Linked DNA regions of Homo sapiens: region 1 is reported to be linked to region 2. The links are microRNA targets in miRTarBase. Many come from high-throughput screens and were not tested one by one. Region 2 holds a microRNA gene; the other region holds the end of a gene's coding sequence.
What was found. The annotated mature microRNA hsa-miR-762 reads GGGGCUGGGGCCGGGGCCGAGC and lies in region 2 at 1,706-1,727, opposite strand. An mRNA with a match to its seed (bases 2 to 7 or 8) in the 3' UTR can be bound and repressed. Matches are read on the target gene's strand: a 7mer-m8 pairs with bases 2 to 8, a 7mer-A1 pairs with bases 2 to 7 and ends in A, and an 8mer does both.

Region 1 (5,065 bases), not on the chromosome of region 2:
ACATCTGAGAAAACCAAAGTCAGGGATGAAGTGAAATGCCTGAAATAAAATAGCTTCTTAAAACTGGGCCTCAAGCTTCCGGTATTCTTTCCACTGTACCACTTTATTGATGTGTATGATGTAGTGTTGATTTTAGCCTGGCAGGTAAATGTTACTTGTTTGTAGAATAAGATGTGACCATTCATGCCACTTGAAGGAACCGTAAGGCTTAGATTCTTTAACCATACTTTTTATTACTTTGTTTAGGCATAGGTTTAGTCTCTCTTATCAAGAGATCAGAAGCTGAATGTGGAGGCAGAATGATAGAGCAAATGATAGAGCGGAGCAGTGCTGCTAAGCAGCTAGGCATTTTTCTAGGCACTTCTCTGCTGAGGCTGTTTTAAGTAGGTGGACACCCTGTAGTTCATATATTTGCATGTTTATAGTTTGTAACATACAGAACATGCTTAGTCAAGTATAGATATTCTTTGTAATTAACCCTCAGAATAGTATGTATTCTGATCCCTTGTTCTTTATTCTCCAGGCACCATACAGGAAGATTACTTGAGAGAGCTGCTGACAACCATGGGGGATCGGTTTACAGATGAGGAAGTGGATGAGCTGTACAGAGAAGCACCTATTGATAAAAAGGGGAATTTCAATTACATCGAGTTCACACGCATCCTGAAACATGGAGCCAAAGACAAAGATGACTGAAATAACTTCAAATTCCAGCCAAACGTTCCTTGTTGCCACTTTGGGTATTCTGAGATTTTCTCTTGCATGCCCTTAGCTTTACAGCTTTTGCATTTCCTGTTGTATTTATTCTCAGCCATTTTGGGCATATGTATCTTTATAATCAGACTGGAAACGGGACTTTCTATTAATATCATTTTCAGAATAAAAAATAGGATAATTTAACCTACCAGCCCTTCTCCCCCAATAACTGTGGTCTATACAGAGTCAATATATTTTTTCAGAGAAAGTTATTCGCTCGATTTTTTCTGAATCATAATTAAACTTTATGATAAAATACTTACTTGTTTAAACTTCTTATTTACCAAACTTGGCTTTTGTTGGTTTCAGTCGTATCTCCCAAAGAAAGGTAGATGAGGGAAATCCTAGAAAATGATATGGTTGTTAGCTTTCTCTTCCTCCAGTTTTCCTAACAATCCTATCTCCTCTACTATCCATTCCTCCTCCTCCTCCCAAGGATATCCAATTTTAACTGCCCTAATCAGGTTTTCTGCACTTTGTCTTCCAATTTTTAAAATAATTTCCTGTAGAATTTGCATATATGATAGTTTCCATAGCTTTAAGTCCTTAAGTTGACATACCTGCCAACATTTCCACTTTATTTAAACTTTTGTAATTTCTGGTCATTTAAAATTAGACCAGGTTACTGAGTATAATTTCAATTTGTCATATTTTTAAAAACCATTTTGGCTTAAAGGTTCTGTGGAATGCTACCAAAGAGAGATTTTTATGTTATGTTTTAAAGTGCTGGAAATATAATGCAGTATTTTTTTTATTATATGTAGTTTTTCTTTAACACAGCAATGTGTATTGAAAGATATTTGTTTATGCAGAGATTCACCATGAGTCCATGTTTGAGTTTTGGACATTCCTGACCTTCCCACAATCAAAACAGCTGAACCTGCATGCCTGGGAAAGTGAGGTCATTATTTCAGTCCTAAAAATAACTTCTACTATTTGCAGAAATGCAGAACTGTTTCACAGTTAATCAGGGAGTGGCAGACAGTTTCGTTCTTTTTCAGCTTTAAAAATCTGACTCTCAAAGGGCTTCAAGATTCTCTTTTTTTTCCAGACAGGGTCTCTCGCTCTATCACCCAGGCTGGAGTGCAATGGCACGATCACAGCTCACTGCAGCCTTGACCTCCTGGGCTCAAGTGATCCACAGCCACCTGAGTAGTTGGGACTACAGGCAGGCACCACCATGCCTGGCTAATTTCTTAATTTGTTGTAGAGACAAGGTCTCATTATGTTGCCTAGGCTGGTCTAAAACTCCTGTACTCAAGTGATCTTCCCACCTCTGCCTCCTAAAGTGCTGGGATTACAGGTGTGAGCAACCATGCCCAGCCCAAAACTCTGACTCTCAAAGAGCATGAGTTTTAAAAGATTTGAAATGGAGAAAAATTTGGTTGAAAAGATTTGACAATTAGCCTATGAAGATGAGTAATTGACAATTACTATAATAACTTTAAGTTTTATGCTACGATTAACATGACTCTCCTTGGACAAAACCATTACCTCATTCAGTAAACAATTACTAAAAGCCTTCTGGGCAGCAGGCCTTTGCAGCCAATAAGATAGATCAGCTAGATCCTGTAACGTGGGAAGGCCAGTGCTATAGGAATAGAAGGACTAGTCAAAGCTAGTCCTTGACCTCTTCAGCATTAGAATCTTAGAACCTGCCTTCATTCTTTGTCTTTTGTTTCTGAATTTTATTCACTGGTTAAGCCAAAATACTTTTTCCAGGCTATGGCCATGGTGCTAAAATCTTGTTTTTTGAATTGAATTTCCATGTCAAGAGAAAAAATTATCATATGCTTTGTTACATCTCTAGTGAAGAACAGATAGCATTGTTTGCACTATATGAAAAACAAGGTACTACTAAAAGGATCTCTTGCAGGGCCCCTGTTTCCCTTTCAGATAAGTGCTTAATGAACCAACTTGCATTAAGAACAATGATGTACCCTGAATGAAATAATTCTCCTAATTTAGTAATAGCATTCTTTGCTTAAACAAGAGTGATTGCCAACAGAAAGGTAAAAGCATCCATTTCAATGGTGTGTTTGACTGAAAAATCAGTCTCAAAAGTTTCCATGATGAAAGTCATACTTAAACCATTTCAAAAGATCTGGCTAGGCACGTTGGCGCACATCTGTAATCCCAGCACTTTGGAAGGTCGAAGTAGGAAGACTGCTTGAAGCCAGAAGATTGACATCAGCCTGGGCAACAAAGCAAAACCCCATCTCTACATAAAAATTAAAAATTAGCCGGACATGGTGGTGGGTGCCTATAGTCCCAGCTACTCTGGAAGCTAAGGTGGAAGGATTGCTTGAGCCCAGGAGTTTGAGGCTGGAGTGAGCTGACTGTGCCACTGTACTCCAGCCTGGGGTGACAGCGAGACCCTGTCTTGAAAAAGAAAACAAAAATCGGACAAAACCAGCCTAATGGGGGTGGCATCCTTATCCACCTGCATATGATGATATGGTCATTTTGATTCCAGGCCCCAAATTTTACTTGATGAAAGAATCTATAACTTGATGAGAGCAGGAATTGAATGCTCCTGGGAAAGAAAGGAGGAAGGCCTGAGCATAAGAGACAAGTAACAGCAAATTGAGAAGGAAAGGAAACCATTTGCTACAAAGTGAAAAGAGGAAGGACAGCAAGAGGCTTAACACCTAGACTTGAGGATCAGATAAAAAATGATCAGAGTTTGGAGAGGTAAATAGAGCCACAAAAACAGTCTTACGGAAACCTAGTTAATTTCAAGAGTAAGGAGGTTGGCAGTGTCCAACACAGAAAAGTGGAGTATGGGAAGGTTTAAATGAGACCCTCCCAGATGTGACAAGTCGTTAGTCATGTTTGCTAGAGTTATTAGAGTTCTGAGTGCAGAATCCATAATGCAGCACAGGATAGTGAATAATGCCTAGGTGTGGGGTCAGGCAGACCTACACTTAATTCCCGTTTGTTGCTACGTCATGGCTCTATAACCTTAAGTCAGTTATTTAAACTTCCTTGGCCTATTTATTCATTTATAAAACGGAAATAATACTGTTGGTTCATATTAGGAACATAATATATAAAGCAGCATTTGTGTGATTAAGAGCAGCACGGATTTGGAGCCATACTTAAGTGAATTGCACCTGCCTATTTGACTTTGTGTTCTTAATTGCCAGTTTCCTCATCTGTAAAATGGCCAATACCATCCAAGTTTCTTCTGAAAATTAGAAGCATGAAAGACAAATGGTCTGGGACACATTAGGTCTCCAAATAGTAGTTATTTTGTTTACGAGTGGGCCAGTGAGAAGGGGCAAAGGGCATATCTTCAAATTCAAGCCTGTTTATAGGCAGAGTAGAAGACAACAAACTAGGGGGGAACAATTAGTGAAACAAAATGGATCATGTCTAAGAGCTAGGATGTGACAGAACCTAGACCACGTAGGATTGCCCTTAGAAAAGTGGATGGATTTCAAGGTAGAATTTCATTAACAGGTTGTTAGGAAGATTTTATAAGACTATGCATACAAATGCCTGTCAGTTTGGTACTAGTGGATTCTGAAATAGTTCACTTTCGATTTCCTGAGCAGGTCCAATATGCCAGACTTGTGTGTGTCGAATTAGGTCCTCTTCACGGGTACAGTTTATTTTTTCTGTCCATAAAGGGATTGTAGTAGCTAATCCCACATTGAAGAAATGCCCAGTTTTCCCATTGCTGCTTATTCGAGTCATTTCCACTTGCTCTTCCATCTTCCAAGTCCCTATATCTTTTTAGTCTAGATTTCTCTGTGTCTGCTCAAATAGCAGGAAATGTGACTTTTCTCCAGTATTTATCCACACACATTTTAGAGTTGTAATGAGTTTACAACTTGTTTTTTCGTTTACTACTTAAATTATATCTCATGTTTTGGCATAGCCACCATTGTTTTGAGTATATTTCTTTTTCAACCATTCTTAACTTCAGTTATCTTTGATGTGGGCATGCTATAATTAACAATTTCCCAATGATAGATATTTAGCTATCCAGCTATTTTTATTAGTGAATAAATTTTTATTCATGATTAAACAAAGCCTATTATAGGCTTTTCTTTTGCATCTAGAGAGAACAATATACCTTAGAATTATTTCTTCAGAATAGTGCTGTCAAATAGAAGCTTCTGTAATTAAGGAAATGCTCTCTGTGCCATACAATAAGGACACTAACCACATGTGGCTATTGAGCACTTAAAATGTGTCTAATACTAGCCAGGCGCGGTGGCTCACGCCTGTAATCCCAGCACTTTTGGAGGCCCAGGTGGGCGGATCATGAGGACAAGAGATTGAGACCATCCTGGCCAAC
Region 2 (5,071 bases):
GCAATTGCTGGAATAAAAGAAGAAAGAGTTTAACTGGAGAGGGCACAGCAGATAGAATTGAGCCAGACAATTGGTAGGGCCCACAATCACATGTGTATTAACTGTAAATATTTATTGGGCATTTACCATGTGCTGGGCACTGTTCTAAGAGCCATATGCACATTAACTAACTCCTGTGTTATAGATGCGGAATAGAGAGAAGTGACTTGTCCAGGGTAACACAGTTAGGTGTGGCACAACTGGGATTTTACCTAAGCAGCTTGGCTCAAAAAAATGCTGTCTTAACCATGCTCCTAACCCCTTATACCCTTAACCTCTGGACATGGTCACGCCCAAATTCACAGACACAACAGCCACACCTTGAAACACACACACACACACAACAGCAGCACAAATTTTGACATGGTCTTATCTGCTGACAAGCCAGCCTCAAATAAAGTCAACAAAGACACACTCATTTTATTTAAGTAATGTACATTTTATTTAAGTCATGTGATGGATTTTCACAGAATACATATGCCCAGGGAACCAGCACCAGATTACACAACAGAACTGGATCAGCTCCCAGAAGCTCTCCCCTCGTCCCCTCCCAACCCTAAGGGCGATCACTATCTTGACTTTGGTGCACTATAAATTAGTTTTGTCTGGTTCTGAACGTAATACACCTGGAACCATCTAGTATGTACTGTTGCATTTGGCTTCTGTCACTCAAGATTTCATCATGCGACTTGTCTATGTTGCTGTGTGTAGCCGGGCATGTCAATCCCGTTGCTGTGTCTATGTGCATGGTAGTGAGTAGGGCATCATTCATTTTCCATTCTGTTGATGGGTTATTTCCAGTTTGGGGCTGTTATGAAAGGGCTCTGAACATTCCCATGCACCCTCTTGATGCTCACACCTACACATTTCTGCTGGGTGTTGACAGCCTAGGAGTGGAACTGCTGGATCACAGAGGTGGCATATGTTCGGCTTCATTAGAAAACTGCCAGTTTTCCAAAATGTCTCTACCAATTTACACTCCCCCAGAAATACAAGAGAGGTCCAGTCGCTCTACTTTCTCGCCTCCACACGGTGCGGTCTTTTTCACTTTAGCCATTCTGGTGGTGGAGACCCACTCGTATTCGCAGCGCCTGGAGCGTAATTGGCACTCAGTTAACAAGACTGTTGAATGAATGGATGACTGAGTAAGTTGGGCGGTGTAGACCAACAGCCTGGCGAGGGCGGACACACGCACGCACTCCACACACAGCGTTTCGCGGACACCCACCGCGGCTCACGCAGCGCAGGACACAGACCCTGTCGCGCACCCCGCGCCCACGTGGTCTGAACACACGGCCTCGGCCCTGCCTCGCGCGTCCGGTCGCAACTCCCGCTCTCCGTCCCCAACTCGCGCGTCCGTCCCCAACTCCCGCTCTCGGCGGCGGGCAGGGGGCGCTGAGCGTCCAGGCGCTCCAAGGGGGCGGGCCCGGGTCGGGGCGGGGCCGGCCGGGCTTCCAGGCCTGGGCTCTGGCCGCCCGCGCCACCGGGCCGCTCCGGGGACAGGCCGGGGCGGGGCGCGGCGGCAGGAAACGGGGCGGGGACTTGCGGAGGCGTTGGGGACGAGAGAGGGCGCGGCCAACTCCAGGGGGGACGGCAGGCCGAGAGCGCGGCGCCCGGGCCTGGCGCGGAGCCTGAGCCCGCCGGACGGGAGGCGGCCCCGCCGCGGGCTCGGCCCCGGCCCCAGCCCCGCCAGCATGGCCGGCCGGACTGTACGGGCCGAGACCCGGAGCCGGGCCAAGGATGACATCAAGAAGGTGATGGCGACCATCGAGAAGGTCCGGAGATGGTGAGCGCTGCTCGGGGGCCAGGGACGGGACACAGCGGGACCACCAGCACCAAAGGCGTCTACGCTGCCCTCGCCAGCTCTGGGCCCCGGGTGTTCGGTGTATCTCCACCCACTAGCTTTGCCCTGGATCCACAGGGCTCTGTCCCCGTTCGCCTGGCTACTCCTGGGGGTCTACAAAGCGTGATCCCCAGCCGTGTCCTCCCAGAGCGGGAGCCCCCTCTTGTGCCCCGCCCCCTAAAGCTTTGACACCCCTCCTGCAGGTGCGCCCCAGGATCTGCAGGGCTCTGATCCCGGGCCAGGCCCATAGCCACGCCCCCCATGTGTGCCCCAGGGGTCCGCAGAGCCAGGGCCCCAAATCATATCCTCTCTCTAGAGGCACCCACCGCCTATGCCCTGGGGTTTGCAGGACTCTCTTCCTCCATGTAACTATGCCCCATTAGCAAAACTGTTGCTATCCTCCTGTGCCTCCTCAACCTCTGCAGGTACCCCCAGATGTGTCCAGCTCCTAGGGGGGTGGGTCTCCCCTCAGGCCTCTCTGACCCAGCCCCCCACCCTCCCACAGGGAGAAGCGATGGGTGACTGTGGGCGACACTTCCCTTCGTATCTTCAAGTGGGTGCCAGTGGTGGATCCCCAGGAGGAGGTGAGCAACCCCCATTCCCACAAGGCCCTGCATCTGTGCAACCTCAGGCAAGTTCCTCCCCACGCTGACCTCTACCTCCAGCTCCCCGAGACCTCAGATGCAGCAGGACAGACGGGAACCATCATTAGCAGCTCCTCCCCTTTTGCCCTCTTTTCTGCTCCACACCCCCTGAGTTTGAGCCCTTTTGCTTCTCAGTGCCTCAGTTTCCTTAGGTGTATGGTGGGGCTTTCCAAGAGCTCTGACCCTAATCCTCTAACCCCCAGGAGCGAAGGCGGGCAGGTGGCGGGGCAGAGAGATCCCGTGGCCGGGAACGTCGGGGCAGGGGCGCCAGTCCCCGAGGGGGTGGCCCTCTCATCCTGCTGGATCTTAATGGTAGGTAGGGATCCTGAAACGCGGGGGGCTGTGGGGACTGAAGGAGTGTACTAGGGATCTCAGGCCAACCATCTCGGCTCTTGCTCCCGCAGATGAGAACAGCAACCAGAGTTTCCATTCGGAAGGTTCCCTGCAAAAGGGCACAGAGCCCAGTCCTGGGGGCACCCCCCAGCCCAGCCGCCCTGTGTCACCTGCCGGACCCCCAGAAGGGGTCCCTGAGGAGGCTCAGCCCCCACGGCTGGGCCAAGAGAGAGGTAGGACCAGGTACCTCCCAGGAGCTCTCTCCTCTAAGTCCTGTCTTCTCCAGAGTCTAACCTACCAGCTCATCCCTATACCTGCTCCCCGTCTTGTGCACCCTCCTCAAGGCGCCTTCCGACTCCTGCAGAATCTCCCTGTAGCTACAGTCTCATTCCTCTGGTCTCTTAGAATCTATACAGACATATCACTGTCTGAGATTTTCATGTAAATTAATTTTTTACTAGTTTATCTTTCTCCTCACTCTCATGTCAGTTTCCTGAATGTTGGGCCCATATTGATCCTTTTTTTTTTTTTTTTTTTTTTTTTTTTTTGAGAAAGGGTCTCGCTCTGTCACCCAGGCTGGAGTAGTATAGTGGTGTGATCATAGCTCACTGCAGCCTTGAACTTCCTGGGCTCAAGCGATCCTCCCGCCTCAGCCTCCCAAGTAGCTGGGACCACAGGCATATGCCACCACACCTGGCTAATTTTTGTATTTTTTGTAGAGATAAGGTTTCACCATGTTGCCCAGGCTGGTCTCAAACTCACTTGCTCAAGCAGTCCTCCACCTTCAGCCTCCCAAAGTGCTGGGATTACGGGTGTGAGCCATCACACCCACACCCGGCCCTCCCCCCCCTTTTTTTTAGAGACAAGGTCTCTGTCACCCACGCTGGAGTACTCTGGTGCAATCATAGCTCACTGCAGCCTCAAACTCCTGGGCTCAAGGGATCCTCTGGCCCCAGCCTCCCAAATAGCTGGGACTCAGGTGTGTGCCACCATGCCCAGCCAATTCTTAAATTTTTTGTAGAGGTAGGGTCTCGCTATGTTGCCAAGGTTGGTTTTGAACTCGTGGCCTGAAATGATCCTCCTGTCTCAGCCTCCCAAGGTGCTGGGATTATAGGCGTGAGTCACTGTGCCTGGCCCTATGTGATCTTGTTCACTACTGTATCCTCAGAATAATATGGGACACATAGTAGGTGCTCAGTAAATATCTGTTGAGTGAATAAATAATAGTGATAGTCATAGGGGTGATTAACAATAATAGGAATAACAACAGCTAGTATTTATTGAGCTCTTACTGTGTGCTAGGTGCCCTGGTAAACACTTTACGTGGTTGGGTTTTTTTCTTTTCTCTTTTTCTTTTCTTTGAGAGAGTTTCGCTCTTGCCAAGGCTGGAGTGCGACGGCACAATCTTGGCTCACTGCAACCTTCACCTCCTGGGTTCAGGCAATTCTCCTGCCTCAGCCTCCTGGGTAGCTGGGAATATAGGCATGAACCACCATGCTCGGCTGGTTTTGTATTTTTAGTAGAGTTGGGGTTTCGCCATGTTGGCCAGGCTGGTCTCAAACGCCTGACCTCAGGTGATCTGCCCGCCTTGGCCTCCCAAAGTGCTGGGATTACGAGCCACCACGCCCAGCCTTTTTTTTTTTTTTTTTTGAGATGAAGTCTTGCTCTGTTGCCCAGGCTGGAGAGCAGTGGTACGATCTTGGCTCACTGCAAACTCTGCCTCCCAGGTTCAAGCGATTCTTCTGCCTCAGCCTCCCATGTAGCTGGGATTACAGGCATGCCACCATGCCCGGCTGATTTTTGTTTTTTTTGTTTATTTGTTTGTTTGTTTTTGAGACAGAGTTTCATTCTTGTTGCCCAGACTAGAGTGCAATGGCACAATCTCAGCTCACCGCAACCTCTGCCTCCCGGGTTCAAGCGATTCTCCCGCCTCAGCCTCTCGAGTAGCTGGGATTATAGGCATGCACCACCATGCCCCGCTAATTTTGTATTTTTAGTAGAGACGAGGTTTCTCCATGTTGGCCAGGCTGGTCTCGAACTCCCGACTTCAGGTGATCCGCCTGCCTCAGCCTCCCAAAGTGCTGGGATTACAGGCGTGAGCCACCGTGCCTGGCCTAATTTTTGTATTTTTAGTAAAGATGGAGTTTCACCATGTTGGCCTGGCTAGTCTCGTACCCCTGACCTCAGGTGATCCGCCCGCCTCGGCCTCCCA

Region 1: the mRNA of MYL12A is a reported target of hsa-miR-762. Seed matches in the 3' UTR shown: 7mer-m8 at 905-911.

Annotation. Positions count from the first base shown.
Region 1 is chr18:3,255,223-3,260,287 of GRCh38, forward strand. MYL12A (myosin light chain 12A) reads left to right here. Exons shown (of 4, transcript NM_006471.4): 4 at 524-1,014. The coding sequence ends at 696. It overlaps MYL12-AS1 (MYL12A and MYL12B antisense RNA 1), which reads right to left. Exons shown (of 4, transcript NR_130145.1): 3 at 1,020-1,100; 4 at 214-616. Among named protein-coding and RNA genes, the nearest start is that of MYL12B, 4.4 kb to the right of the region's middle.
Region 2 is chr16:30,890,607-30,895,677 of GRCh38, reverse strand. MIR762 (microRNA 762) reads right to left here and starts at 1,775; the gene lies at 1,693-1,775. BCL7C (BAF chromatin remodeling complex subunit BCL7C) reads left to right here and starts at 1,601. Exons shown (of 6, transcript NM_004765.4): 1 at 1,601-1,825; 2 at 2,388-2,466; 3 at 2,730-2,838; 4 at 2,931-3,092. The coding sequence starts at 1,734. MIR762HG (MIR762 host gene) reads right to left here. Exons shown (of 3, transcript NR_110942.1): 3 at 458-1,130. RefSeq lists enhancers at 1-400, 2,144-2,473, 2,012-2,644 and a silencer at 1,284-1,763.